Linked DNA regions of Homo sapiens. Changing the gene in region 1 together with any one later gene gives a genetic interaction. Each region holds a gene or a part of one and is shown in the gene's direction. Other genes may lie near its edges.

What was found.
Region 2: changes in MTF2 (region 1) and SLC39A9 together harm fitness less than expected from each alone (positive genetic interaction), as found in Homo sapiens cells (one large-scale study listed by BioGRID).
Region 3: changes in MTF2 (region 1) and FUT8 together harm fitness more than expected from each alone (negative genetic interaction), as found in Homo sapiens cells (one large-scale study listed by BioGRID).
Region 4: changes in MTF2 (region 1) and RABGEF1 together harm fitness more than expected from each alone (negative genetic interaction), as found in Homo sapiens cells (one large-scale study listed by BioGRID).
Region 5: changes in MTF2 (region 1) and TRAPPC13 together harm fitness more than expected from each alone (negative genetic interaction), as found in Homo sapiens cells (one large-scale study listed by BioGRID).
Region 6: changes in MTF2 (region 1) and SLC30A5 together harm fitness less than expected from each alone (positive genetic interaction), as found in Homo sapiens cells (one large-scale study listed by BioGRID).
Region 7: changes in MTF2 (region 1) and SEC23IP together harm fitness more than expected from each alone (negative genetic interaction), as found in Homo sapiens cells (one large-scale study listed by BioGRID).

The regions. Positions count from the first base shown.
Region 1 is NC_000001.11:93,085,506-93,089,596, forward strand, and holds part of MTF2 (metal-response element-binding transcription factor 2), read left to right. Parts: intron 1-4,091. UniProt on the Homo sapiens protein: Polycomb group (PcG) protein that specifically binds histone H3 trimethylated at 'Lys-36' (H3K36me3) and recruits the PRC2 complex, thus enhancing PRC2 H3K27me3 methylation activity.
Region 2 is NC_000014.9:69,440,051-69,444,141, forward strand, and holds part of SLC39A9 (zinc transporter ZIP9), read left to right. Parts: intron 1-1,781; exon of another isoform or gene 1,782-1,922; intron 1,923-2,018; coding exon 2,019-2,216; intron 2,217-4,091. UniProt on the Homo sapiens protein: Transports zinc ions across cell and organelle membranes into the cytoplasm and regulates intracellular zinc homeostasis. Participates in the zinc ions efflux out of the secretory compartments.
Region 3 is NC_000014.9:65,411,090-65,415,809, forward strand, and holds the start of FUT8 (alpha-(1,6)-fucosyltransferase), read left to right. Parts: upstream 1-1,640; 5' UTR 1,641-2,125; intron 2,126-4,720. UniProt on the Homo sapiens protein: Catalyzes the addition of fucose in alpha 1-6 linkage to the first GlcNAc residue, next to the peptide chains in N-glycans.
Region 4 is NC_000007.14:66,746,845-66,750,935, forward strand, and holds part of RABGEF1 (rab5 GDP/GTP exchange factor), read left to right. Parts: intron 1-4,091. UniProt on the Homo sapiens protein: Rab effector protein acting as linker between gamma-adaptin, RAB4A or RAB5A. Involved in endocytic membrane fusion and membrane trafficking of recycling endosomes. Stimulates nucleotide exchange on RAB5A. Can act as a ubiquitin ligase.
Region 5 is NC_000005.10:65,627,724-65,631,814, forward strand, and holds part of TRAPPC13 (trafficking protein particle complex subunit 13), read left to right. Parts: intron 1-1,744; exon of another isoform or gene 1,745-1,864; coding exon of another isoform or gene 1,865-2,617; exon of another isoform or gene 2,618-3,205; intron 3,206-4,091. Other genes in the region: SHLD3 (shieldin complex subunit 3), read left to right, coding at 1,865-2,617.
Region 6 is NC_000005.10:69,100,124-69,104,214, forward strand, and holds part of SLC30A5 (proton-coupled zinc antiporter SLC30A5), read left to right. Parts: intron 1-683; coding exon 684-806; intron 807-2,938; coding exon 2,939-3,005; intron 3,006-3,838; coding exon of another isoform or gene 3,839-3,922; exon of another isoform or gene 3,923-4,091. UniProt on the Homo sapiens protein: Together with SLC30A6 forms a functional proton-coupled zinc ion antiporter mediating zinc entry into the lumen of organelles along the secretory pathway.
Region 7 is NC_000010.11:119,895,254-119,899,344, forward strand, and holds part of SEC23IP (SEC23-interacting protein), read left to right. Parts: intron 1-3,173; coding exon 3,174-3,706; intron 3,707-4,091. UniProt on the Homo sapiens protein: Plays a role in the organization of endoplasmic reticulum exit sites. Specifically binds to phosphatidylinositol 3-phosphate (PI(3)P), phosphatidylinositol 4-phosphate (PI(4)P) and phosphatidylinositol 5-phosphate (PI(5)P).

The DNA.
Region 1 (4,091 bases):
AGAGACAGGGTCTCTCTGTTGCCCAGGCTGGAGTGCAGTGGCGTGATCATAGCTCACTGTACCCTCAAACTCCCGGGCTCAAGTGATCCTTCCACCTCAGCCTCCTGAGTAGCTAGGACTACAAGTGCATGCCACCACACCTGGCTAATTTTTAAAATATTCTGTAGAAACGGGGTCTTGGTATGTTGCCCATGCTATTCTTGAACTCCTGGCCTCAAACAATCCTCCTGCCTTGGCCTCCTTAGGTGCTGGGATTACAGGCATGCCACTTGGGCCCAGCCAGGGCCAACTTTTAGCATCCATAGGTTCTATGGGTCACACTGCAGAACTTGAGTATCTGTGGATTTTGGTATCCTCAGGAGGTTCTGTGACCAGTGCCTTGTGGATACCAAGGGACAACTAAATAGCATATACATAAACCAGTAACACAGTCGTTTGTTATCAGTATTATGTATTGTACATAATGAGTATATGTGCAAGACTTTATGCTACTGGCAGTGCAGTAGGTTTGTTTTATACCAACATCACTGCAAACACATTGTAAAGCATTGCATTACAGTGGTTACAAAGTCACTGGGTAATATGAATTTTTCAGCTCCATTATAATCTTATGGGACCACTGCTGTATATGTAATCTGTCGTTGACCAAAGTTTTACTGTGTAGCACATGACTATGCTTAGAAGGAAGGATCAACTATGTAAATAATGAAGGAGGAGGCCGGGTGCATTGGCTCACGCCTGTAATCCTAGCACTTTGAGAGGCTGAGGCGGGCGGATCGCTTGAGGCCAGGAGTTTGAGACCAGCTGGGCCAACATAGTGAAACCCTGTCTCTACTAAAAATACAAAAAATTTAGCCAGGTGTGGTGGCACATGTCTGTAATCTCAGCTACTCAGGAGGCTGAGGTTCACTTGAACCCAGGAGGCGGGGGCTGCAGTGAGCTGAGATTGCACCACTGCACTCCATCCTGGGTGACAGAGCGAGACTGTCTCAAAAAAAAAAAAAAAAAAAAGATGAGGAAGAAGGGCAATTTTGGTAGTAGGTACAATATGTATGAATGCCTTGGGTGGAAAAGATCTTGGTTTGTGAATAATTGATAGGCAGCCCCGGGTGAATCTTGAGATGCAAAGACATATTCCTGTGGGAGAAGAAAACTAATATATCATATTTGACTTGTAGCTTTTTCAGCCTAGTAATTATGTTAGTTTCCCAGTTTTGTTGGTGTTTGAAGAACTATTTATAAAGTCCTTTTGTATTTATCTATGTGATAAATACAGAGCTTTGAAAATGTATACTACAGGCAGCTGTCTTTGAACTTTTTCTTGTTGTTTCAAAATTGGGCAGACAGCTACAGGTTGAATATCCCTTATTTGAAATGCTTGGGACCAGAAGGGTTTTAGGATTTTAGGCTTATTTGCATATACAAATGAGATGTCTTGGGGATGAGACCCAAGTTTAAACACAAAATTCATTTATGTTTCATACACACGTTGTATGCTTAGTCTAAAGCTTATTTTTTCGTTCGGGACACTGAATAAACTGTGTTGTGCCACCTGCGTTTTGACTACAACCTGTTACGAGGTCAGATGTGGAATTTTTCATGTGTGGTTGATGCTTAGAAAGTTTCAGATTTTGAAGCATTTCAGATTTTGGACTTTCAGGTTAGGGATGCTCAACTTGTATTAGTATCTGAGGACACTTAACAACCAAGTTGAACCATCTGTAGGAATGCATCATTTCATCACTGATAGATGACTTCAGTTAGACTTATAAAAAAGGCCTTAAGGCTGGGTGTGGTGGCTCACGCCTGTAATCCCAGCACTTTGGGAGGCCGAGGTGGGTGGATCACCTGAGGTCGGGAGTTCAAAACCAGCGTGACCAACACGGTAAAACCCCATCTCTACTAAAAATGCAAAAATTAGCCAGGCGTGGTGGCACGCACCTGTAATCCCAGCTACTCAGGAGGCTGAGGCAGGAGAATTGCTTGAACCCAGGAGGCAGAGGTTGCAGTGAGCGGAGATGGTACCATTGCATGGCAGCCTGGGCAACAGAGTGAGACTCTGTCTCAAAAAAAAAAAAAAGCCTTAATGGCAAAATATACTGTGGACAAGAGGCTGGATACTGTCGATACTGGCAGTGAATGGCCTGATTTCATTCACCAGTTGCTAAATCTGAAAATATTCTTGGCCTTCCCCACTGTATGTGACCTCGGTTCATAATTGGGATCCAAAGGTGACAAATATCTAGAATAACTTTGTCTCAGAAATAGTATCACTTAACTGGGGTTTACCATAGTAGAGCCAGGTATTACCTATCTTTCTTTACAACTTTAAGGAAGTAATTTTACTTCTGAGTTCCAGATTTTTCACTTGTTAAACAGTAGTCTTCCCTTCCTATTCTATGGCATTATTAGGAGGAGAAAATGAGATATGAATGCTTTTGAGAAAGTTAAGCAGTATAGCAAGATGAAGATATTTTCAAGCCCTTATCATCCATATGCTCTACTACCTACCAAAGATCCAGTTCATACTTTTGTTTATAGTAATTGGAACTTTTAAAACTCTAGGGTATAGTTAGTGGCTTGCAGCAAGAGCCCCTCAGTTCTCTTATTTTTTTCTCGTTGGTCTTAGGACCAGAGTCTGCAGGATTATAATGACAACGCTGAACTTTCCAGTTCATCCTTGCCTGAATTGTTAGTGGAGGCTCATTTTATGTAGTGTAATCAACTTTATAAATTCTGGACTTGAACATGAATGTATGTACCTGTACTTAATTCACATTTATCTGTGGTTTTAATGTATATTAGTGGCCTTGTTGGTTTTGGTGTTTTAAGTCTGTAGTTAACCTTTCTTTATTATTCATTGTATATGTGAGATAATATAATCAAGGATTCCTTTTGCACAAATAATTTAGATGGCTATGGGTATTGTGATGTAAAGATTTTACCAGTTGTCATATTGGCTTTTAAAAAAATCAGATATATTTTTGAAATCTATTACTGTTTCTAAATGTTTGGTATTTACCATTTTGAAAATACTTGATATATTATATTTAACAGTGTCATTTACAATTTTTTTTTGAGACAGAATCTCACTTTCTTGCCCAGGCGGGAATGCAGTGGTGCGATCTCGGCTCACTGCAACCTCTGCCTCCTGGGTTCAAGCAATTCTCATGCTTCAGCCACCCAAGTAGCTGGGATTACAGCTGTGTGCCAACGTGCCTGGCTAATTTTTGTGTTTTTTGGTAGAGATGGTGTTTCACCACGTTGGCCAGGCTGGTATGGAACTCCTGACCTCAAGTGATCTGCCTGCCTCAGCCTACCAGAGTGGAGTGCTGGGATTACAGGCATGAACCACCATGCCCAACCTCATTTACAATTTTTAAAAAAATCTTAAGATCTGTATTTTTTATAGTTTATAAAAGTTTTTTTGTGATCACAAAAATACATGCTTTTGGTAGAAACACAAACATACAAAGATGTTCTATAAAACTGACTTTTTATCGTACATTTTAAGATATTTAAAAATATTTTCTGTAATTTCATGAAGAGTACTAAAGCCACAGTCACTGACATTGTAAACACCTCTGTTCATTCTCTAACCTGTTAGGTGGTTAAGCTATTTTTAATTCTAGGGGGCTCAGGCTGAACTTGAGGTTGGGGAGGAGAATTTGCCTCTGCTTTTAGTTGCAATTTTCAAGTGAGGTGAAATTAAGTAAAATTTGTAAGAGCTTTTTTGGCTTTTTAATTCTAGATAAATACATAAATAAATTTGGGTCTCTGTAATAGAATATGTGCTTTTATAGGATAGTGATATTTGCTTGATAAATGGAGGATTTACTTACTAGTGTGTGTATTGATAAATACAGACTTTGATTAGTTTATTCAAGAGAGATTTTTAAGTCCCTACTTTATGCCATACCTTGAAAAGTTTTAGAGTTCCAGTGATGAGCAAAATGTTTACTTTCAATTGTAATTCAAAATGCAAATTCCACTTGTTTACATGGAGTTATTAGATTGTAAATTTCTAGAAAATTGTTTGATTCTGCCTTTAAAAAAAAAGAAAGATGGAGCCTCTCAAGAGTGCAGTGGTA
Region 2 (4,091 bases), on another chromosome or scaffold:
GAAGCAAGGCACCTTCTTCACAAGGCCGCGGGAAGGAGAAGTGCTAAATGAAGAGGGGAAGGGCCCCTTAAAAACCATCAGATCTTGCAAGAACTCACCATGTAGTACACCTGTAAACCCAGCTACTCGGGAGGCTGAAGCATGAGAACCACTTGAACCCTGGAGGCACAGGGTTGCAGTGAGCCGATATCATGCCACTGCACTCCAACCTGGGTACAGAGTGAGACTCTGTCTCAAAAACATAAGAATAGTGTCAGGCACGGTGGCTCAAGCCTGTAACCCCAGCACTTTGGGAGGTCAAGGTGGGCGGATCACTTGAGCTCAGGAGTTTGAGACCAGCCTGGGCAACATGGCAAAACTACATCTCCACAAAAACAATATAAAAATTAGCAGGACTTGGTAGCTCACATCTGTAGTCCAGATTCTTGGGGGACTGAGGTAGGAGGATGACTTCAGTCCAGGAAATGGAGGTTACTGTAAGCTGAGATTGCACCACTGTAGTCTAGTCTGGGTGAAAGGGCCATACCTGTCTCAAAAAGAAAGAAAGAGAGAGAGACAGAGAAAGAAACAGAAGAGTACATTGTAACTGTTGTAAGGTTGGATATTATTTTGTGAAACTGTTTTGTTTTGTTTTGTTTTTTTGAGACAGAGTCTCCCTCTGTTGCCAGGCTGGAAGGCAGTGGCGTGATCTCGGCTCACTGCAACCTCCGACTCCCTGGTTCAAGCGATTCTCCTGCCTCAGCCTCCTGAGTAGCTGGGATTACAGGCACGCGCCACCGTGCCCAGCTAGTTTTTGTATTTTTAGTAGAGACGGGGATTCACCATGTTGGCCTTGATCTCCTGGCCTCGTGATCTGCCCCCCTTGGCCTCCCAAAGTACTACGATTACAGGCATGAGCCATTGCACCTGGCCTGTTTTGTTTTGTTTTTAAGAGACAGGATCTCTAGGCTGGACACAGTGGCTCATACTTGTAATCCACCACTTTGGGAGGTCAAGGTGGGAGGATCACCTGAGCCCCAGATTTCAAGACCAGCCTAGGCAACATAGGGAGACCACATTTCTACAAAAAAATTTTCAAATTAGCTGGTTATGGTGGTACTTGCCTGTGGTTTCCCAGTTACTTGGGAGGCTGAGGTAGGAGGATTGCTTGAGCCCGGGAGGTCGAGGGTGCAGTGAGCCATAATTGCACCACTGCTGTACTCCAGCCTGGGTGAAAGATGAGACCTTGTCTCAATTTTTAAAGAAGGCTTAAACTGCTTAATCTGATTATAAATGATAAATGTCTAGTATGTTATTCTCTATTCATGAAATATAGCAAAGATAAGCTTTTTGGCCTTTTGAAGCATTTATGTTTTAAATGACAAATATGTTACTGTAAACTGGGATTATCAGCTGGCCAGGTATCATTTACTGCAGTTCAGAGTCTCCCAACCTCCATATTTCTAGAACTGAATTTAGACTGAAGGATGTGCCTCTTAAACTGCTCTGCCCTTTTGGTTTCTTGCTGGCAATTGTCTGCTGATATTTTATAAAGCTAAAAATTTTCTACTCAATTTGTTCCTTATTTTACATTTTTATCTCAGCCTAGGTATAAACTAGATGAATTTGATTGCAATTATTTTCATTGTTACTGCTCTTCATTTGCCTATTTTCATCAGAAAAAAACAGTGTATTTTCTGGTGAGATTGGCATGAATTTCTCAGATAAAGGAATATTTGGGGATGGTGTCCCTTTGGGAATATGATTGCTTTCTTGCATGGTGATTTGCTTCCACTTCCCAGGTGTTGAGAATAATAGGCAGTCAGAAGGTCTGCATGCCAAAGGCAGAAGACATTTGGGAATTTTTTCATCATGAACTTTAAGTTGAAGGAGTTAATGATTGGCTGGATTACAATATAAAAAGTGGATGTCTTTACAGTAAAGTAAGTAGAGCTTGAAATACAAAGAATGGAAACTCCTACATGAAAATGTTTTTAGGGGAAAAACATATTTTCTCTTTATGGTTTATTCTGCTCTAGGAAAACACCACCAAGCAAGTGAAACACATAATGTGATTGCATCAGACAAAGCAGCAGAAAAATCAGTTGTCCATGAACATGAGCACAGCCACGACCACACACAGCTGCATGCCTATATTGGTGTTTCCCTCGTTCTGGGCTTCGTTTTCATGTTGCTGGTGGACCAGATTGGTAACTCCCATGTGCATTCTACTGACGGTGAGTGGCTCCAAGGCTTTCTGGGCAGTGCAATACATTTGCAGTTGAGAAAGTTACAAACGATCAAATATTTCAGTCTGTATCAGTGGCCATATTTAGTGCTAAAACTCTTGTCTTCCTTGGGTTCTAGTGAACATTTAACTAAGTGGGGAGAGCTAGTGAGTTGTGGCATGTGGCGCAAAGAAGTGTTTATTGGTTTATTACTTTGCTTGTCTTAAAGTTGTCACATTTGGTTGAGAGTCTAGGGCAGAAGTTCTTAACTTAGTTTTTTGCTGTGGAGCCCTTAGGCAGTCTAAAGACTGTGGACCTTTTATTGGAATATTGTTTTTAAATGTATAAAACATAGTACATAAGATCAAAGAGAAAACCACCTTTGTTGAAATACAGTTACTAAAACATCAGAACAAATTTGTGATATAGTAATGTATGTCTTTATCAGTGCATTAAATAATGAGATAATACATTTAAATCCTAAACAAGTTAGAGTTGAATTTTATTTTCTAGGACATTAGTATGCTAGCTATTACATAATAATATGCTTGGCTTAAGAACATTAAATTATGAGGTAGTCTGTAACAAGGCAACATGTATGTCAAGTTAAACATCTAGTTGATTTTGGGTTTTTGTTTTGATGGTTATTGGTGTAGAAAATCTTGATTTACAAAGGTATTTTCTTACAAATGTACCTAAACACATTTGTAGCTTGCTTTTTAAGGAATCATAAGCTTCTCTAAAGGACAACTAGAATTCCCCAAGACTTTTCAAATTTGACTCCAGTCATAGTAACTGTTTTGTTTTAAGATCAATGAATTTATCTTTGGCTAGGTCAACATTTTTCATACGATTTATATTAATAAAAAAGGATTCTGATACATGATACACTTCGATCCTGTGGTGATAGAAATAAATTTGAGAGTTATAAAACTTCTCCAGGGATTGATGTGTAGACATATTTTTTCAGATATGTCAGCAGGGAATTTTGCAGATAGGAAATATTGGAAAGCAGCATAAGTATCTTGGTCCCCAATGGGAGAGCCTTGTGACTATCACTGTTTGGTGGCTGAGTGACTGTTAGATGCAGAGCTACTTGATAGTTGCCCAGCTCCATCACATGAGCATCTGCAGACAGGAAAGCTGTAATCATGCAGTATGGCAGCAGTTCTATAAGTCCTTAATTTAAAGTAGTGATGAGTGAAAGCGATAATTTAAAGATAATCTACAACTGTAAAATAACCTGATTAGTCTGATTTCTACTGGCAGTAAAGATAGTGCTGATATTACTTGTGGTTTATTGTCTGCATTCATAATTAAAGGAAATGAGGGGGCAGTCACCATGACTCACCTGTAATCCTAGCACTTTGGGAGGCCAAGATGGGCGGATCCTTTTGAGTTCAGGAGTTTGAGACCAGCCTGGGCAACATGGCAAAACTCCATCTCTACAAAAAATACAATAATTAGCTGAGCATAGTGGTACGCACCTGGAGTCCCTGCTACTGGGGGACTGAGGCGGGAGGAACGCTTGAGCCCAGGAGGTTGAGGCTGCAGTGAGCTGAGATCACGCCACTGCACTCCAGCCTGGGTGACAAAGTGAGACCCTGTCTCAAAAATAATAATGATAATAAAAATAAAGGAAATGTGGCCAAGCGTGGTGGCTCATGCCTGTAATCCCAGCACTTTGAGAGGCTGAGGGGGAAGGTTCACTTGAGACCAGGAGTTCAAGATCAGCCTGGGAGACATGGTGAGACCCCATCTCTACGAAAAAAAAATAAATTACCCAAGCATGATGAGGCATGCCTGTAGTCGCAGCTACTCAGGAGGCTTAGGTGGTAAGATCACTTGAGCCCAGAAGGTTGAGACTACATTGAGCCACGATCA
Region 3 (4,720 bases), on another chromosome or scaffold:
CACTTTTATACCAGAATTTTGTCCTGCTTATACGTTTAGTACAGAAATCTCATGGGAGAGAGCATCCATGCATTTACAAATTGTTATTGAATTATTTTATTGAATGATGACACCCAAACTGAGCTAGAACATAATTCTGGCTCTGCTAGTACATCTTCTGTGTGATCTTGGACAAGTCACTCTACTTTCCTTTCAATTTTCTTTTCTCACAGGGAGATAATCATAAAAACGACTGTAAAGTACAGCACTTCATAGAGTGCTTTTTGTTTAAAGAGCTGACAATAAATACGAGTCTCAAGGTCTAGGAAAGCCTCCCTCACAACCTGAGCTGCTTGAGGACAAGGGATTTTCTTTTGAATCAGCAGTACCTTATTTGTGTATCTGTGATAGAGTTCCTGGTACATAAGAAGGTCTCAATAAATATGTGAATTTATGAATATTAGGCAGATTGCAACCTTGACAGGCCACTGCCTCTTAAATCTCCTTTCTGTGATCTTTTAATATTTAACATCTAAAAGGCCGCCGCTACTTGCTTTGGGATAAGTATCCCCGGTATGTACTTTAAAATGCCCAAGCCTAGAGAAATGATTCTTGTCTTAAGGGCACCATTTCGCTCTCCCACCGTAAAGCGCCCCAGGCTTGGGATCTGGGTCCCAAGGCTACAGGGAAGAGTTTGGAACGGGAAGCTCATCTTCCGGCCCTCTGATTGGCCGGCTCGCACTCCACTCACGCGGCGCGCAGCTCTGATTGGCCTCGGCGGCACCCCTCGTCCCGCGACTACTTTGTGTGCTGGGGCGGCGCGCTCCGGTCCTCCCGCTCAGCTGGCGGTCTGGGCTGCTCTGGGGCAGCCCTTCGGTCCACTGCTCTGCATCGCGGGCGCCGGGAATTTTCCGAGTCCGAGCGGGTAGGACGCATCCTAGGGCAAAGCCTCTCCCCTCTCCCCGTGCTGTTCTCTTTCCCGTACTAAATAAACTTCCGCCTCAGAGGGGCTGTCGCAGCCGCGGGTCGGGAGAGGCCGGGCATCGAACTCAGGCCCTCGTGGGGGGGGTCTTTCTCTTCGAGTGAATGTGGAAACAGCTCTTACAAGATAAAGTAGGGCTTCGCTGAGTCTCCTGGGGGAGCGATGCCATTGTAGGATCGCGCTGGAAGCAGCAGTCAAGCGGCCAAATGCGGGCTGCAGGGGCTGAGCAGCAGCAGCGCGCACCCCTAAAAGTAGCAAGGAGCCAGCTTCAAAACCTCTAGTGCGGGTGCCCCCTAGGGCCGCCGACTGAGCTGGCACGGGCCGGTCCATTCCCGGCGCTGTAGGGAGCACAGCATTCTCTGGAGGCGAGTCTCCTCCCGGGATCCAGGATCCGCTCGCGCCCCGCTCAGCCTCCGGCCTTCAGGCGGTAGAGGGCGGCCTACGCCTGTGTGCGAGCCGGAGCCGGCGTGCGCAGCCGCTGCCCTGCTGGAACTGTGCCGTCCCGCTGTGGCCCGCGGCTCTGCTAGGCGGTGGATGCTGCTGCTACGCTCTCCACCGGCGCAGCGAGGAAGGGGGCGGGGAGAATCCCTGGCACATGCCAGGGTCGCCGTAGGTGGCAGCGGCCGGCGCATGCGCGCCCTCTCCCAGAAGCCAGGAACGCCGAGGGGCGCGCTCCCCCATTCGCGCGCGCACGCCGGCGCTGGCCGAGGCTTCCCCGCCTGCGCTCGTTGTCAGAGCCGCTCCGGCGCGTGCGCGCGTTATCTCCGGCCGACCCGAGCAGCCGGTTCCCTCCTCTCCAGGCCCCCTCCCCATCCCACCCCCGCCGCCTGGCCCCAGCCGACCCGTCCCTTCGTCTCCCCGCGGAATGGGGCCGGCACTGCTCAGGGTCGCGCGCCCTGGACCCAGCTCGCTCTCGGTCTCGCGCTGTCAGCGACTGCCCGGCTCGCGCCGCCTCGCGCTCTGCCTCAGTCAGTGGCGCCGAAGGCTCCGTTAAGCGGCGGCGGCGGTTCCTGTTTCCGTTTCTTCCTCTCCGTTCGGTCGGGAGTAGCATCCTCCACTCAGCCACCCTTCCCACTCCCCCATCGTGGGGCAGCTGCGGCTGAGGGCTGTGGCTTTGGCAGCTGCGACGGGGAGCGGCGGAGACCGCCTCTGCTCCCGCCTGGGGTAAGGGGGCGTTTTGGGAGCCGGGCCCCGCGCGCCTCGGGGTCTTGGGCTGGGCTGCGCGCGGGATCTGAGGAGGCTCCGCGGCTGTCCCTGCTCGTTCACCCGGGCCTGTTGCTGCAACTGCTGCCGGTTAACCAGCGGCTCTCGGAAAAGTGGGGAGGGAGCCCCCGGGACGCTCTGGCGGATGCCTTGGCGCAGCCCCGGGGGCGCGGGCAGAGGGTGAGGGGCGCCCGCCTCTCCAGCCGGGACGCGGAGCTGCGCCGCTGCTGCCCTCGGCGTCGCGCATCCTTGCCTAGGGCAGGGGCCAAAGCCTAGGGAAGGAGAAGGGTTGGGGGCGGGGGTGGGAGGTGTCCGTCGTTTCCCCTCCACACCTACCTTCCCTTCGTCAGCAGCTCGGTCCCTGGAGTCGCGGTTTGTGGGGAGGAAGATGCCCGTGCGTTATGGGCTCTTTCTGAGTGCTGCTCGGGCTAGAAAGCAGGGAGTGGACCCTCACAAAGATCCGCGAGGGACTGATGCAGGGCAGTTAAAGGCTTGAGTGCAGCTGTACTCCCTTTTGATGTGCAAATGACGAGCTGGCGGCTTTTGAGTATCAACTTATTTGGGAAGGTTAAATGAGTCCATATTTATCAGTTCTAGGAGGTTTGTCCTGCAGGATTGAGTGGGTTGTCGGGTGCAGCACCTGTTCTTTCTTCACAGTGGGGATTGCAATCTTCAGAGACGCAGTGTATTTCTTAAGTGGCAGTGTCATGCTTAGGGTTTGTCCCGGATGAGCTTTTATTTTAGCATTTTGCCATATAATATATAGATTGAGGCCTTGGTTAAAGGCACGGACAGGTGGTGTTTTTTTCCTTCCTATGTTTTAATTATTCACAGTTTATTTAAACCCACTCAGGAAGGTGGACCCAGAAAAGCCAAATTCTGTAGTACATAACCCCAAATTTCAAGGTTTTGCGGAACAAATTCAACACAAGTTTTGTGTCAGTTTAGAGTTAAACGCATCTCAAGTAACTGACTTAACTGGCTTGCCTCTATGAAAACTGTAGGCAGGTTTCATTATAGATTTTTTTTTTCTTGTTATTCCGGCGGTTAGGTGCATGTTTATTTTCTTGATTAAATTTACATTCTATGTTTTATGACTAATTCTTTAAATAGGTGCATCATATAGAAAGTATTTTAGGAGAGAAATTATTATTTAAGCACTACAGTATATCAGATATATGAGAAATAATGGAGTTGTAGTCTCTGCTCTTTAAAATAACTGTAAAAACATCTTAAAACCCTATGCCAAATAATAAGGCCCTGTACCTTGCTGTCCTTGTGAAATCTGGTATGTGTATAGAAAATCTTAATTACTTGATTTGTAAATACTACAGTAGTATTGAAAAGGTGGGAATTCAAGCATTTGTAATTGTGATTTCACAGGTTTAGTGTGTAAAAAATGCAGGGAGTTAGAGATGAATAGGCTATAAGACACGTACAAAGGTAGTTCCAAGACATGGATTTTCTTTTTGCTGCCTTATAAATTGAGAATTCTATTTGAATTCAAGAGCTGAACAGCTGGAATGAAACTTGCATAGATTGCAGAAACAGATGCAAAAATGTATCTTTGGTCAAGTTGTGAGTTAACTTGAAGAGTGTCTTGTGTAATAGGATAGTGATTCAAAATAATTTCCATAAAGTACGGCCTTATATAGGTTATATTTTGAGGATATTTTTGAATTTAAAAAGTCACCTGAAGTTGTTTTCCTACAAATCAGTTCTGTTTAAGATGTATGGAATCGAAAAAAACAAAACAAAACTAATTCTGATTACATCCTGCATTGTTTTGTTGCAAATTCTTACCAGTTATTTTTACGCAATTGGAGTGTCCTTAAAAGTGGTGAATCTTAAAATTTGCCAGTGGATTGGAAAAAACTGTTAACTTATTATTTTTAAAAATGCTGTTATATTAGTACATTGGTCTGGAGGGGGAGCTAGTGCCAAAGCAAAGTATAGCTTAATAGCTGTTTGAACTTTTAAAACACCCAAAACCAGATTTTTATGACCAAAAGAAACATAAATTTTTAATTAAAAGAGTAGGAAATTGATGTGGGCATATATATGTACATAGTTATTTGTGGAGTGAATATATTGTGTATTACAAATTAGTTTAAAAAAGTCTTTTCATGCGCTGCAATAATGGAAAGCTAAATGCTTAAAGATTTATTGGATTTCTCACTTAAAAATCTCTAAAATGTACCCCCAAACTTAGAGTATGTTATAGTATTTTCTTAACCTTCTTGTCCTGTTCATCAGAATCTAAGGCATGTATTCTTGACCCATTGTACATGTTGTGTGTTCTTAAATTTTGTTTTTATAATAGCTACAATCCTAAAATTTCAAAAACGAAGCTTCAAGTAGAATCTTATATGGGCGAAGGTATTAATTGTGTGGTAAGCTAGGTATTTATCAAAAGTAGATATAATTCCTTTTTTTTTTTTTTTTAAAGTAGAGATAATTCCAATAAAAAAATGGACCTTTTAGACATCTGGAGAACAATATCCCCAGGTCACTTAACCCTTATCTCCTGCAGTATAATGCAGTGCGTCCAGCTGA
Region 4 (4,091 bases), on another chromosome or scaffold:
TGCAATAGTGCGATCTTGGCTTACTACAACCTCTGCCTCCTGGGTTCAAGTGATTCTCCTGCCTCAGCTTCCCAAGTAGCTGGTGTTAACAGGCACGCGCCACCATGCTGAGCTAATTTTTTTATTTTTAGTAGAGACGGGGTTTCACCATGTTGGCCAGGCTGGTCTCGAATTTCTGACCTCAGGTGATCCACCTGCCTTGGCCTCCCAAAGTGCTGGGATTACAGGTGTGAGCTACCGTGCCCGGCCCTAGTGGAACATTTTAATTTGTTTCTGGTAGCATAGCTCTCTTGGCAATGGTCATTAAGAGGGCCAAATACCATTATTATGATCAATTAATTAAATGTGGTTAAAAGTCAGAAGTTAGAATAAGTATGTGTTCATGAATGCGTAAAATATTACACACTGAGAGAGTATTAAGCTTTTTAATTTTCCCCCAGTAACAGTGAGCAGATTGCTGAAATCTCTGAAGCAGGAATGTAACAAGAGTTTTGAGGGCTCTAAATTCTCTGCTGTTTCACCCTAAGGAATGGTTTGGCAGCATCCTCTATGCTAGGCACAGAACAACTCAGGAGGAATTGTACAAAGACCTTATGAACCACATTTGAAGCTAGTCTGTTCAGTTCCCATTCAAAATAAATACACAACTGTAATTGAATTTATGGTGATTTGGTCTGTATGCTAAAATTAAAAATCGCTTTTGGGGGATTTTCACATAGGGGTATATTTATAATTTTCTGTGTGCTTTGCAGTTAAAAATACATAGTGAAAGTTTTATTTTTGTAGTTCCTCTGTTGTACAGAGGAAATTTAAATTCTTAAAATTAGAATTTTCTAATTTTAAGCACTTTCATTTTTCCTTTAGAAGGTACTTTGGAGCACATAAAAGAAAATGCCATTAGAAATTGAACATAGAAAATGTTTATTAATCGAAGAAAATGTTTTCTTATTGTGCTATAATTTTTTTCAGTGGAACATATCATTTACTTATTCCATTATTCCACATCTTGTTCCAGAAAGGGTTTGTAATGACTTACAAAGATACGTGCGACATACTGTTGGTAACATAACAGATAAGTGGGTGAGGAATGCAGGACTGAGGGAAAATTAAGATGGAAACAGGAATGAGCTGTGTACACAGAGCACTTGGACTGAAGTCTTAAGTGCAGAGGGCCACAAATTTGGCTTTGCTTTTGAGTAGCCAATTAAGAGAGAAATATAATCAGTTACATGGGTCAGTGACCATACGACAAAAGAGATCATTTCTGCTTTGGATTCCCAAAGACTTTCCAGCATGCGTTTCAAAGGGCTGGGTGTCGAGTTTTACTTTGTGTGTTAGTAAAACTCCTTATTGGCTTTTTGTGTAAGACGGTGACATAACATCAAAACATTCCGTAAAAGCATTTCTCTTGCCTGCAAAATAATGTGATCCGAGTACTTAGATCTCTAGGCTGATTTAAGGATCTGTTTTAGATTATCTAGATGAGTAGGTGGATTGCACATTCTTCACCTACCTTCCATACTTTCTCAGTGGATCTTTTGTAATGAATTTATCAGCAGTGGGGTTTGAGTTTGTGCTTCCTCACAAGTTCCTTGAATGCATCTGTTTTCTGTTGTTGGTGAATCACGGAACCATATGTTTTAACAGGCATGGTTTATCGTGGGGGTATCACGATGGAACAGTCTGACAAGGGCACATATTTGTTTGTTTGTTTTTTGAGGAAAATCACTTTATTCTAATTAACTCAACAAAGAATAAAATCATAACGGCTAGTTCAAGGGTGCCACACAAACATCTACCCAGCCATCTTAATGAAATTCTACACAGTAAGAATTTCCTTTTCCATTGCAGTCCTGAAGCAGGGACGCTATGAGAGAGGAGAGGTTTACCTGATGATTACACTTTATACCTTCACTATCAATTGTATTTTTGTGCTAAATCACTTGGTTATGAGAGCTGATTTTCCATTTCTCCAATTCGAACTTTCTGATTAGACCAATCTGTTTGCAAGTCTGCACTGTTTCAGCACCTTATTGAAACCCTCACAGAGTTTTCTGTCACCCTGGTTCTGGGCACTCTCCAAAAACTGTTTTATGTCATAAGAGCAAGGCCGCTGCTGCTTTGCTGGCTGGGTTCCCTGAGGCTCTTGGTAGGTGATATCAGGCCTTCAGGCTCACCGTGACTTCCTCCACTGAAGCCCTGGTGGTGGCATGACCCAGTGTATGTCTGACAGGGGCACATATTTGAATGAAAGCCACCTCACCTCCATACAGAGATGGGCTGAGGGAATACCAAATATGAAGATGGGAGCAGATCCAGATCTACTCGTCTCAGATGAAATGTCCAGTAAGTTGTATTGCCTGTATTTTGCTCCAGCTGAACAGTTGCACTTTCAAGTAATAATAGTTCAAATTTATCAAATGCTAGCAGGAGCCATGCATTGTGTTAATGGAGAGAGACCATCCTTATTCACTCTTACTCAGTAAACAGTGGGTGAAACTGCCCTTGCCTAAATATAGTTATGTAATGCTGTGTTTCCTTAATTGTATATCCATAAAGCTTTTGACATTGTTTTCTAAATGTGTTCCTCAAAAAGGAGTTGGGCTAGTGACCAAAGTTTTGAATAGAATATTGTAAGAAAGCAAATACAAAGTGTAAAAACAAAAAACAGAACTTTGCGAGGTGTTGTTCACCTGTAGTCCCAACTACTTGGGAGGCTGAGGCAGGAGGATTGCCGGAGGTCAGGTATTAGAGGCTGCAGTGCACTATGATTGTGTCTGTAAATAGCCACTACACTCTAGCCTGGGCAACAAAGCAAGACTCCATCTCTAAAAACAAACAAACAGGCCAGGCACGGTGGCTCACACCTGTAATCTCAGCACTTTGGGAGGCCAAGGCGGGCGGATCACGAGGTCAGGAGATAGAGACCATCCTGGCTAACACAGTTAAACCCCGTCTCTACTAAAAATATTTTAAAAAATTAGCTGGGTGTGATGGTGGGCGCCTGTAGTCCCAGCTACTCGGGAGGCTGAAGCAGGAGAATCGCTGGAACCTGGGAGGCGGAGCTTGCAGTGAGCCGAGATCGCACCACTGCACTCCAGCGTGGGCGACAGAGCGAGACTCCATCTCAAAAACAAACAAACAAAACTACAGAATAATGAAATAGAATGTCCAAAATTTATCATAACTGGTGTCTCACGAGATAATACGTTTGGGTCCTGTTTAGCAAGTTGGATTATATTTTTATTTGTGTAAATTTATTGGCCGTTGCAGTTGGGGTTGTATTGAGAATGTAGATTTTGTCTGATGAGAGTGTAGATTTTATTTGTAGTGAGTGCATGTGGATTTTTATTTGTCTAGGGTTTTAAAAGTTGTATAGTCATGAATGGACACTTTTTAATACCATCTATGAGAAATTCAATGGCAAAGTGTTTTCATACCCATATGCTAACTGCTGATGCTTTTTATAAAACATTGTTAAGGTGTTACTTGCCCCAGGAAATACAATGTTTTATGACAGAGACAGTACTGAAATTCAGTATTTAAGTTCTTTAAATACCAGCTATGTTGAGTAGATATTACTTTCTCCCAAGAGCCTATTTTTGGTTTATGACATATTAGGGAACAAATTGCAGACACAGTTTTTTCATTACCTGTAAGAGCACTTATAGGATGTAAGCTATTTCCTTAAAGAGGAATTTTTGCCTTTTTAATACTTCTGTCTAGTAACTCAATGCATTAAAAGATACATATTTTTCTAGTGCTATAAATATATTGGTACATTTAAATATAATATACACACATATAATGGTGCTTGAGAAATAAGTTGAGATTATTTTAAGGTTAAGGTTCTTAGATTCTGACAGAAAAACTGATCAGCCAGTTGGACTACAGGTCCAACCAGTTCCAGCCCCAAACATGAGCAATAGTGATTATGGTAGTGATTCTGCCATTTACGTCAGTGAAATGCAAAGATTTCAGTTTCATTCTTCAGCAGACGCTTTATGTGTATTTGGAGAAGAATCTGAGTACTAGAAAATACTCTTCTCCTGTGTTTGTTCTGCTGTTAAATACACGGTTTGAATTCTTAA
Region 5 (4,091 bases), on another chromosome or scaffold:
GAACAGGGAAGAAAAACATTAGTGCATCATTAGTTCTTGAAAGTATATATGATAACATTTAGATCCATATTTAAAATATGGATGTTAAAGATCACAATTATTTATGAATTTGAGAGTTGTCAGATCTGTTAGTGGGCAGTATCAGTAGGTAAAAATAATGAAATTATTTCTTCTAACTCTTCAGAATCAGACAGTGATTCTATTGTGAAATGATGACAAGAATCCATACTCATGGTTATCCTAGCAGTGGGAGAACCCTCATCAAGTAATTCTCTAATGATTTTTGGGGAGAAGGGATTCAACTTATTTTTTTCTGCTGTTGTTAGGATGTGAAAAAGTCTGTTTTATGGCTCTTACAGCTTTGGGCCTGATTAGCAAGCCTAACTTGCAGATATTGGAAGGCTCCATTCTTGAGCCTATGCACCATATGCTGGAATTTATTATCAGTGACTTAATTTGGGGCAACTTGAGGACTTCTGTGCTCTAAGAGAAAAAAATAGGAGTCTAGACTTCTTGTTCTCTTCCAAACTGGAATTCAAAAGCCATGGTATTGGGGTCTCCATACTGTTTAATTGCCTGGATTATGAGGAGAAGACAGTGTCACAAAACTGGTTCTTAGCCTGGTTAAACCATATTAGCAAAGTTAAACCATATTAATGGTTTTAGTTTTTACTACAGAGAATGACGTGAAATCATCAAATATTCTATCTATATATTTGTTTGGTGGAATCCATATAATTTTTTTTTTTTTTTTGAGACGGAGTCTTGCCCTGTCACCCAGGCTGGAGTGCAATGGGAGTACGATGGCGCGATCTCAGTTCACTGCAAACCTCAACCTCCCGGGTTCAAGCGATTCTCCTCCCTCAGCCTCCTGAGTAGCTGGGATTACAGGCACACGCCACCACAGCCGGCTATTTTTTGTATCTTTAGTAGAGCCGGAGTTTCACCATGTTGGCCAGGCTGGTCTCAAGCTCCTGACCTCGTGATCTGCCCGCCTTGGCCCCCATAAAGTTCTGGGATTACAGGCATGAGCCACCGCACCTGGCAAATCTACATAATTTTAAGTATAAAATGATTAATTTTCTTCCAGACAGATTAGAATTTTTTTTTTTTTTAATGAGATGAAGTCTTGCTCTATCGCCCAGGCTGAGTGGCATGATCTTGGCTCACTGCAACCTCTGGCTCCCAGGTTCAAGCTATTCTCCTGCCTCAGCTTCCCTAGTAGCTGGGACTACAGGCATGCGCCACCACACCCAGCTAATTTTTTTTTGTATTTTGAGTAGAGATGGGTTTTCACCATGTTGGATTAGAATTTACAGTGATTTCATTGTCCTCAATTTAGTTGCCTCAAATTTTTAAATATTACATTTTTTGTTAATTCATATGAAAACAATATTTTAAGAATCATTCATTTACTCTTTGTTTCTGCTAAAGTTTTAAGACTATTATTACTTAATATATTAATATCGATACTTCCAAGTCCTTTATATCTATTGAGTTAAACATGTTGACTACTAGCGTTTTTAGGCAGGAAGTGATTTTATAGGGCATCTAGTTCAGATCCCTTATTTTGGTAAGAGAAAGAATTTTCAGGTTTGTAGATTACATTCACATTTACCAATAGCACTTTGGTAAAATACCACATTGGGATTGGTTTTTGTTTTTTGTTTTTCCTTTTCTCCCTGCCTGTTGGTAGGCAGGGTATCCCTACCATATCTTATTCTTTGCAATACTTCTACTTTAGGTCCTGTTTCCCTCTGATTTGGCAAGAGAGACAATCTTGCAATAATAAATTAACATTCTAGCTCTGAGGAGTTCAACTAAGAAATTTTCTCATCACTAAGAGTAACTGGATTACTGCAGAATGACTACAGAAGTAATATTACATTATCGACCATGTGAGAGTGATCCCACACAACTGCCAAAAATTGCAGAAAAAGCAATTCAAGACTTTCCTACTCGTCCGCTATCAAGATTTATACCTTGGTTTCCATATGATGGGTCCAAGCTTCCACTCAGACCTAAAAGATCACCACCTGTGATTTCTGAAGAGGCAGCTGAAGATGTGAAACAGTACTTAACCATTTCAGAACATGATGCTAAGTCACACAGTTATGATTGCACAGTAGATCTATTGGAGTTTCAACCTAGCTTGAAAAAGCAGCATTTAACCTGGTCACACACACTGAAGGAACAGACTAATTCTGGAAATCTGGGTAAACAATCAGAAAAGGGAAAACAGCACAAGAGGAGATCTTGGAGTATTTCCCTTCCCAGCAATAATTGTACTAAAAACGTTTCTCCTTTGTCTAAAAAATTGCAAGATAGTTTAAAGGCACTAAATTTACACTCACTTTATAGAGCAAGATGGACAATAGAACACACTATTTGTAACAGCCAAACTCTGGAAGACATTTGGACAAAACTCAATCAAATTATTAGGCACAATGAACTTCCATCTTGTAATGCTACAATTCAGAGGCATTTAGGCCAAATATGGGTGTTCTGTGATATTATGTATTGTGAATATGTGGGAAGTCTTCTTAAAGGAAGATTAGCTCTTACTGGAAAAATTAATTTATTTGTGCATAAATATGGTGTTATTTTTAGTATGTAATGAATTCCACTGATTGTCAAAAAGAATATTCTGAATGAAATGAATATGGATTGAAATAGATAAAATAATTTTTACAGGTTTTAAAATTTTTAATGACTTTTTAGAATTCCTAGGCTTGTCAATTAAGTCAAGAAATTGCTGAGTTCTGCTTATTGGCAGCCTTCTTTTAAATGTGATAAATTATTGTTTACACTGAATTTGAAGGTAAAAATGTTCTGTTCCTTTTGTTACAAACTGTGATTGAATTAGTCATGAATTAAGTTGTATAGTTTGGATTTTGGTTAATCTCTAAAATCTAATTTTACTGTATTTTTTTCCTTACCTCAAGTGTAATTTTTTAAAAAATAAAACTCGAAACAATTCTCTTTGGAGTGCTATTTATGTGGCATGAATGTAGTTCAAAGTGGGAGACTAGTCTAGATTTATAATGATGTTTCCAAAGATATGTAATAACAATTGATAGGCTGTTTTCAAACAACGATACAAAATGTATACTTTGCCTAAAACGATAATGTATCCTGTTTTGAAGGAAAGTATCAAATGTTGAATGATTGTTTATTTCTTCTAATACAGATAATTCAGTATTAATGATAGTTAGTGCTAATTATTACTTGGCTGATGATTGGAGTCATTGTAGGTTCCCCATAAGCATAATCTTGTAATTGGTTTTACACATCACCTCATAAAAATGCTCAAAGGGATTAAAACAGTAAAAGTTTTGTAGAAGCATGTATGTTTGTTTAACATATTTAAATGCCTACTTTGCACTAGGTGCTAGGATATACTAGGGAAGGAGACAGACATGGACCTTGCCCTCACACAGCTTACATGTCATTACTACTATTAAACACACCAGCTCCCTAAGAAAAATAAGACTGCACTTAACTAGGAATATAGACATGTTTACCTTGAAGCTCAGTGCCTGTCATGGTAGGAGCTTGATAATGCATGGTAAACATTCCCTTCAGAGGGATTCTTCATAGCCTGAGATGGCTGAGGTTGCTTAAAATGGAAGCCCACTAATTTTTTTTTCTTTCTAACTTTTATTTTAGGTTCAAGGGGTACATGTGCAGATTTGTGATATGGGTAAATTGTGTGCCACAGGGGTTTGGTGTACAAATAGTTTTGTCACCCATGTAATCAGGATAATACCCAATAGGTAGTTTTTTAGTCCTCACCCCCTGCCACCTTCTACCCTCAAATAGGCCTCAGTGTCTATTGTTCTGTTTTTTGTGTCCATGTATACTCATTGTTTATCTCTCACTTATGAGAATATGTGGTATTTGATTTTCTGTTCCTGCATAAATTGGCTTAGGATAATGGCCTCCAGTTGCATCTACGTTGCTGCAAAGGCCATAATCTGAAAATATGAAGAAAAAAGTTGCTTTTAATACCAAGTTGGGATCACTTTATTTTTAATGGAGGATCATTTTTTACCCACCATCTCATCCCCTGCTAAACCACAGGAATCATG
Region 6 (4,091 bases), on another chromosome or scaffold:
ACGCCCAGCTAATTTTTGTATTTTAGTAGAGGTGAGTTTTCGCCATGTTGGCCAGGCTGGTCTTGAGTTCCAGACTTCAGGTGATCCACCCACTTCAGCCTCCCAAAGTGCTGGGATTACAGGCATGAGCGCCCAGCCTGTTTGTATTTTGAGACAGGGTCTCACTCTGTCGCCCAGGCTGGAGTGCAGTGACACGAACACAGCTCACTGCAACCTCAACCTCCCACCTTAGCCTCCCGAGTGGCTGAGACTGCTACCACGCACCATAATGCCTGGCTAATTCTTTGTATTTTTTGTAGAGATAGGCTTTTGCCACGTTGCGGAGGCTGGTCTCAAGCTACTGCACCTGGCCTCAAAATGTTAACAGTAGGGCGCGGTGGCTCACACCTGTAATCCTAGCACTTTGGGAGACCAAGGCTGGAGGATCGCTTGACCAAAGGAGTTCGAGACCAGCCTGGGCAACACATTGAGACCCCGTCTCTATGAGTTAAAAAAAAAAAAAAAAAAAAGTCAACAGTAGTTATCACGTGGATGGTGAGTTGTTTGGGGACTCTGTTTTGTTTCATTTTGTGTTTATGTATATTTCTGTGGTTTCTGTAATGACCTCTTGTTTAAAAAACCAGATTGATGAGCTGCTTGTAATTTCAGTGATACTAAAAATTGTTTCTGCTTTTATTTTTCAGATTAACAAAATATATTGTGTTACTATGTTTCACTAAATTTTTGAAGGCTGTGGGACTTTTCGAATCATATGATCTCCTAAAAGCTGTTCACATTGTTCAGTTCATTTTTATATTAAAACTTGGGTGAGTGTGGGGGGGGGTTTTTTCTTGATATTTTTTATTTCTTTGAAAATCCTGTTTTAACAGAGTATCTTTAAGAAACTTTACATACAATATTTTGTTTGTTCCTCCTGACAAGTATTTGATAAACTTTTTTAACTGGGAGTATACTTAAGATTAGAGGTACAAAGAGACTGAAAAGAAAACGGATTGTTGTGCTCTAATCACTTGCCTAAACACAAACTTTGATGAGATTTTTGCAAATTTAGTTTTTGGGCTATTTATTATTATTATTATTCACTGCATAATCCTTTCTTAGTACAGAGTCCTCATGTAGTGTGAACATTAATTTATTCTACTTATACGAAATGCTTTTTTTTTTTCTTTTTTGAGACACAGTCTCACTCTGTCACCAGGCTGGAGTGCAGTGGCGTGATCTTGGCTCACTGCAAGATCACTGCCTCCTATGTTCAAGCGATTCTCCTGCCTCAGCCTCCCGAGTAGCTGGGACTACAGGCGCTCACCACCATGCCCAGCTAATTTTTGTATTTTTAATAGAGACAGGGTTTCACCATGTTGGCCAGGATGGTCTCAATCTCTTGACCTTGTGATCTGCCCGCCTCAGCCTCCCAAAGTGCTGGGATTACAGGCATGAGCCACCACGCCTGGCCTACATATAAGAAATTCTAAATAAAGATTTCTTGGACCTTGAGATTGATAGTGACCACCCTCTGTGTTAATAAAAACCTGTTAAAGACTCTTGGGAGTCAGCTGGGCACGGTGGCTCATGCCTGTAATCCCAGCACTTTGGGAGGCGGAGGCAGGTGGATCGCCTGAGGTCAGGAGTTGGAGACCAGCCTGGCCAACATGTCGAAAGCCTGTCTCTACTAAAGATACAAAAATTAGCCAAGCGTGGTGGCATGTGCCTGTAATCCCAGCTACAAGGGGTGCTGAGGCAGGAGGATTGCTTGAACCTGGGAGGCAGCGGTTGCAGTGAGCTGAGATCATGCCACTGCACTCCAGCCTGGGCAACAGAGCGAGACTCCATTTAAAAAAAAAAACAAAAACAACACTCTTCGAAGTATAATTTTGGTAAGTTGGGAAAGAGATTATTGACTAGGAAATATTAAGCACCAGTGACGTGCTTTTTTTTTTTTTTTTTTTTTTTGAGACAGTCTGGCTAGGTTGCGCAGGCTGGAGTGCAGTGGCTCAATCTCAACTCACTGCAGCCTCTGCCTCCAGGGTTCAAGCAATTCTGTCTCAGCCTCCTGAGTAGCTAGGATTACAGGTGTGTCCCACCATGGCCAGCTAATTTTTGTATTTTTTTTAGTAGACACGGGGTTTTGCCATGTTGGCCAGGCTGGTCTCCAACTCCTGACCTCAGGTGATCCGCCCACCTCGGCCACCCAAAGTGCTGGGATTACAAGCTTGAGCCACTGTGCCTGGCCAAGTTGTGTGCATTTTTATATAACTATTTTGGCAATGTGAAAGGTAGGGATATATAATTAGTAATTTCTTCATTTTCATTATACTATTTCAAGATTTATTACTGAATTTTAGAGAAAATAGGAATTCTCTTCTTTGATATTTTAAGATATAAAAAAAATTGTGACTCCTTTATTTTTGTGGCTTGTTAGCTGGTTCTGAAGACAGTTAGAAAATAAGAGTTCTCGGCCAGGTGTGATAGCTCATGCCTGTTTTCCCAGCAGTTTGGGAGGCCGAGGCAGGCGGATCACCTGAAGTCAGGAGTTCGAGACCAGCCTGGCCAACGTGTTGAAACACCATCTCTACTAAAAATACGAAAAATTGGCTGGGCGTGGTGGCGCACACCTGTAATCCCTGCTACTCAGGAGGCTGAGGCAGGAGAATTGCTTGAACCCGGGAGGCAGAGGTTGCAGTGAGCCAAGATCGTGCCACTGCACTCCAGCCTGGTGACAGAGCAAGACTCCATCTCAAAAAAAAAAAAAAAAAAGTTATCAAAATATTGCAATAGGAGTTTTACTAAAATAAGTATAATTAATTCTCCAGTATGATTTATTCAGAGGATAACACTTCAAGTTCTGGCATATTTGTTTAAAATAAGTGTCTTTACTTAAAACTGTATCTTGTGTTTAATATGGATTAATATTAATATATTAATGTTTCAATATTTACAGGACTGCATTTTTTATGGTTTTGTTTCAAAAGCCATTTTCTTCTGGGAAAACTATTACCAAACACCAGGTAAGATTTTTGCAGAATCTTTTATTCCTAGCAGCTTCTCGTTTAGTGGGCCAGGAGGCAATGCTTATTTTTTATAATGGGTACTTAATGAATGATTTAAGTATGCCACAGAACAATTTTAGAGTTAACTTGCTCTTGTCTTTTCAGAATGGAGACTTTAAATCATAAAGTACTAAGATCATGGAATGTTTTTAAAAAAAACAAGAGGGTAAAAAAAATTATAAAGCATTCATGTAATTGTTTTCTTCAGTACACACTTCTTATTCTGAAAGATTTACAAATTGGACATGAAAGCATGCCCAAGAGCCTAGTACAAATGTCACTGGAAAGCTGACAAAGCATAGGGGTTAAGAGTGTGATTTCTGGAGTCAGACAAAGTCATGTTCTGTCTGTCCTCCTTACTGACCCTTACTTTGGGCAAGTTACTTGATTTCTCTCTACCTTAATTTGCTCACTGTAAAATGGAGATAACAGTAACTTCCTAACAGAACTGTGAGGAAAAATGAATTAATACTTATGAAGTTCTTAGAATGATGCCTCATCATCATTGTGACAATGTGACACCCTCATGATCATTGTCACTGTTCTCTTTAGGCAGCTGTGATTCAAACTAGAAATGTCCTACATTTTGCATAATCATCTCACATCGTCACTTCTTTGGGCAGCAGTTATACCATAGTACATGTTTGCTTTATGCCATGACTTACAAACCTGCGTCATAATTTTTTTATTAGAAAGACGAATTTAAGTACTTCTGTTTCAGAGACCAAGAACATTTTTTAAAATATGATTAATAGTCTAAACCCCATTTTAACTTTTTTCTCTCCTTTCAGATAATTGGATCACTAAAAATTCCTGGTAGAAAAGAATTTAAAGACAAAAAGTTAAATGATCCTAGGAAACTAGTGGGAAACTGAGAAATCATAAAATTGTACTCTGAAGAAAAAGATTTCAAAATCTACCAGCAGACAAGAATATAGATAATGGAAAACAGAATACTGTCCTTTTTTTTTTTCTTTCTTTTTTTGAGAAAGAGTCTTGCTCCATCGCCCAGGCTGCAGTGCAGTGACACGATCTTGTCTCACT
Region 7 (4,091 bases), on another chromosome or scaffold:
GGCGCCTGTAATCCCAGCTACTCGGGAGGCTGAGGCATGAGAATCGCTTGAGGAGGAGGTTGCAGTGAGCTGAGGTCATGTCACTGCACACTCCACCCTGGGCGACAGAGTGAGACTCCATCTCAAAAACAAAAACCAGACATGGATTGAGCAGTTTCTATTTGCCAGGCACTGTTCCAGAACCTGGGAGACACAGAAGAGCAGACAGCCCTGCCCTCAATGACTGCACAGTATGTGTGTATACACACACACCCACCTGTGTAAGCAACTGTGATACAGGTTTAGAACAGTTAGAAAGAGGGATTGATAGATGGCTATGAATGCTACGGGTATCAGGCTGGCTGAGCCGGGGAATGGATGTCCCTTAGGCCTTCAGGGCCTCTTAGGGGAGGTGATGCTTGAGCTGAGTGTTGAAGGATACATAGAAGTGAGGGAAACTGGAGAGACAGGCATATGTGAAGTCTGAAGGTGTGAAAAAATCTTCAGATTTGGCAGGAGTTAGTGGTTGGTGGAATGGGACAGGGATGGAGCTCATCCCTCTCTCCTGTCCCTTCACCTTTGTCTCCTCTCCCCTGTGTCCTCTGCCCCCAGTAGATCACTTTGACTAGAGTGTGTGCAGTGGAGTGGCCTCAGTGATCTATGGGCCACATATGCCATACTCAGGAGGAGTTTGTAGTTCATCTTGTGGGGTGTTGGGGAGCCTTTGAAGGATTTTCAACAAGGCAGTGAAATTAGACGTGTGTTTCAGAAAGACTGGAGTTTTCTCTAGTCGCACTGGAATAAGGTTGACTGTAGCAAGAGGATTCAGTTGGGAGGCATAGTGAGAGGCTGGCAGTGGCTATGGCAGTCTAGCCTGAGTCAGCCACATTGGGTGTGAGGAGCAGGGAGCAGATGTGCGAGATGTGTGGACTATACAGTTGTAGAGACTCACAGAAGACCAGAGTGTCAGCTCTGTCTGTCAGAACAGAGGCCCATTTTTGTTTAGTTTTAGACCCAAGACTGAGCTCTGTACCTGGCACAGAATGCATCCTGAGTAAATATTTCTTGAATAAATATTTGAATGATTAAATGAAGGGTTTGAGAGAGAGGGAGGAGTCTCAGACTTGAGGTTTCTGGTTTGAATGTCTGAATGAATGTTGGCAAACATCTGTGGAGATTGTGAAATACAGAAAAGGGAGCATGGAGGTGGGTAGTTAAGATAAACTCCGTTTTAGGCTTACTAAGCATGAGGTATATGTGACTGAATCTGCCAAAAACATTGAGGAAGTAGTTGGAAAACAAGTTCTGGAACACACGAGAATGGTCTGGGCTTACGATGGAGTTGGGAGTGTCACAAATATACAAGTGCCTGTTAAAGTTGTGGCTTTAGATGACATGTGTCCAAATGAAATGAGAAAGTGCCCCTGAGGTGAGGGTAGCAGTATATGGAGAGCACTTCATTTGTAGTTGATGCTAATCAGAAAAAAAGTTTCTCGGACCAGGTTGACCTCAAGTTTTTCTAAAGGATGAAAGATACCACTGAGTTTTTTTTTTTTTCATTCTTTTAATTGTTGGGAATGAACTAAGAAATACAAATAAGTCCAAGTGAGGGTCACTGACCTGAAAAGAGGGGTGGGAGCTGGAAATATATCAGAGAAGTGGAATGATTCAAGTAGACACAAGGCCTTGTGCAGCAAGGGATATTTTATTTTTAGTTACAAAGAAACTACCAAAAGGAGTATTTTGAATGGTGGAGTATTTTAGTTAAACTGATGTGTGTAAATAATGAGAGCTCAAGAAGCTCAAGCCCTAGTCTCAGCAGAGGTCAAGAAGCTTGGAGCCCGGAGCTTGGAATAAGGCTGCCTGTTGGCAGGTCTCCAAGGGCAGGGACCGAAGTGTGCCTGTGTGCTGTGAGTGAGTCCAGCCCTCTGATGGATTCCATGCCTCCAGCAAGGAGGTAAGAGGGAATGAGGCAGGAGCAGGGAAGATTAGGAGGAGGAATATGAAAGCTACAAGCTAGGGAACATAAAAGTTTCGTAAGGAATAATAGTAACGTGGACTTTTGAGGTGATATACAGGGAAGATGCTTTTATTTTACAACTTGGTAGTAGAACAGAAGCTAAATTATTTGGAGTCGTTAATACCCACAGTGAACATCAAGTTGGGCAAAGGGATGGGAGATCTTCCCTTGGTTAGAAAGTGACCTTCTCAGCAATTTGGTATTCTGTAATGATAAGTCTGTGATAGTGCATGATTTTAGGGAATGGCAATTAATGGTTGACCTACTTGGGAATACAAATACCACGTGTTCATTTGTACAATAAGTGCTTTGTAGGTGAGATTCCTGACACACCCCTTCTTGTCAACAGAGTTATCTTTAGTCTCTTGTTATCACTATAGAAATAAAAATATATGTATTTGGGTAGTCGAGTAACAGTTGAATTATTTCTTACCAAGAAAAAAAGATAAAAAATAATATGTAAGGCTGGGCACGGGGGCTCATGCCCGTAATCCCAGCACTTTGGGAGGCCAAGGCAGGCAGATCACTTGAGGTCAGGAGTTCAAGACCAGCCTGGTCAACATGGTGAAACTTCATCTCTACTAAAAAAAAAAAATACAAAAATTAGCTGGGTGTGGTGGTGGGTGCCTGTAATCCCAGCTACTCGGGAGGCTGAGGCAGGAGAATGGCGTGAACCTGGGAGGCGGAGCTTGCAGTGAGCTGAGATTGCGCCACTGCACTCCAGCCTGGGCGACAGAGCGAGACGCCGTCTCAAAAAAAAATAAAAAAAAAAAAATAAATAAAAATAGTAAGTATAGATTTTGTTTCTATTTTTAAAAACATATACAAATATATATTTACAAAATAAATAACTATTTGTATTTATTTTAGAAGTATGGAAGGGTATGTAGCAAAATGTTAACAGTGTTAACAGCGTGATTGTCTCTGGCAGGTGGGCTTATGAATGAATTATAATTGTTTCCTCTTATGTTTTCTTATTCATGTTTTCTAGTTTTTCATTTCTAAGAAGCAAGTTTTCAAAGAAAAAAAGAAAAAACTGTTTTTTTCTGTAATGCAGAAATAGCAAGTTTGAAGAACAAATAAGGAAGTATAATTGCTAGCCCTTCCTTATAGAATCGTATCTGCGGAGTGATAGAGTACCCTTTAAACCACATGCTCTCCTGTTCCATTTCAGAGGATTCCACAGATGTTGGTGAGGAGGACAGCTTCCTTGGTCAGACTTCTATTCACACATCTGCCCCACAGACATTTAGTTACTTCTCTCAGGTATCAAGCAGCAGTGATCCTTTTGGGAATATTGGACAGTCACCATTAACAACTGCAGCAACCTCAGTTGGACAATCAGGATTCCCCAAGCCCCTGACTGCTCTCCCTTTTACAACTGGATCCCAAGATGTCTCGAATGCATTTTCACCATCCATTTCGAAGGCTCAACCTGGTGCTCCACCTTCCTCACTGATGGGAATAAATTCTTATCTGCCTTCTCAGCCAAGTAGTCTCCCTCCTTCATATTTTGGGAACCAACCCCAAGGAATTCCCCAACCAGGATACAATCCATATCGCCATACCCCTGGCAGCAGCAGGGCTAATCCTTACATTGCACCACCCCAGCTGCAGCAGTGCCAAACACCAGGCCCTCCTGCTCATCCTCCACCTTCTGGACCCCCTGTTCAGATGTACCAGATGCCTCCAGGATCTTTGCCACCGGTATGGAGACATGATTTTGTGTCCTACTTATTCACTCTGTGTCTTCTTTCTCACCTGAACCTATGTTTTAAAAAACATTTCACATCTTATAATCAATATGGTGACAAATTAGTTTCAGAGGGTATTCTTTGTAAGCTACATGAAGTAAACATTGTCTTAAAGATAGCTTATTGGATGGCTCATATTTTAGTGTATATTACCTGTTTATTGAAGCAGTAACTGATTTTAATGAGTTAGCTACGTGTCAGTATTTCCAGATTTTAGAGTACGGTAAAAATAAGTGTTGTCTAGAGACATAGGAGAATTGAAGCGGTTATTGTCTTAACAGACTGCTAGTTTCTCATCTTTCAATTACACTAGTCAATCAAAACACTCAATTACAGGG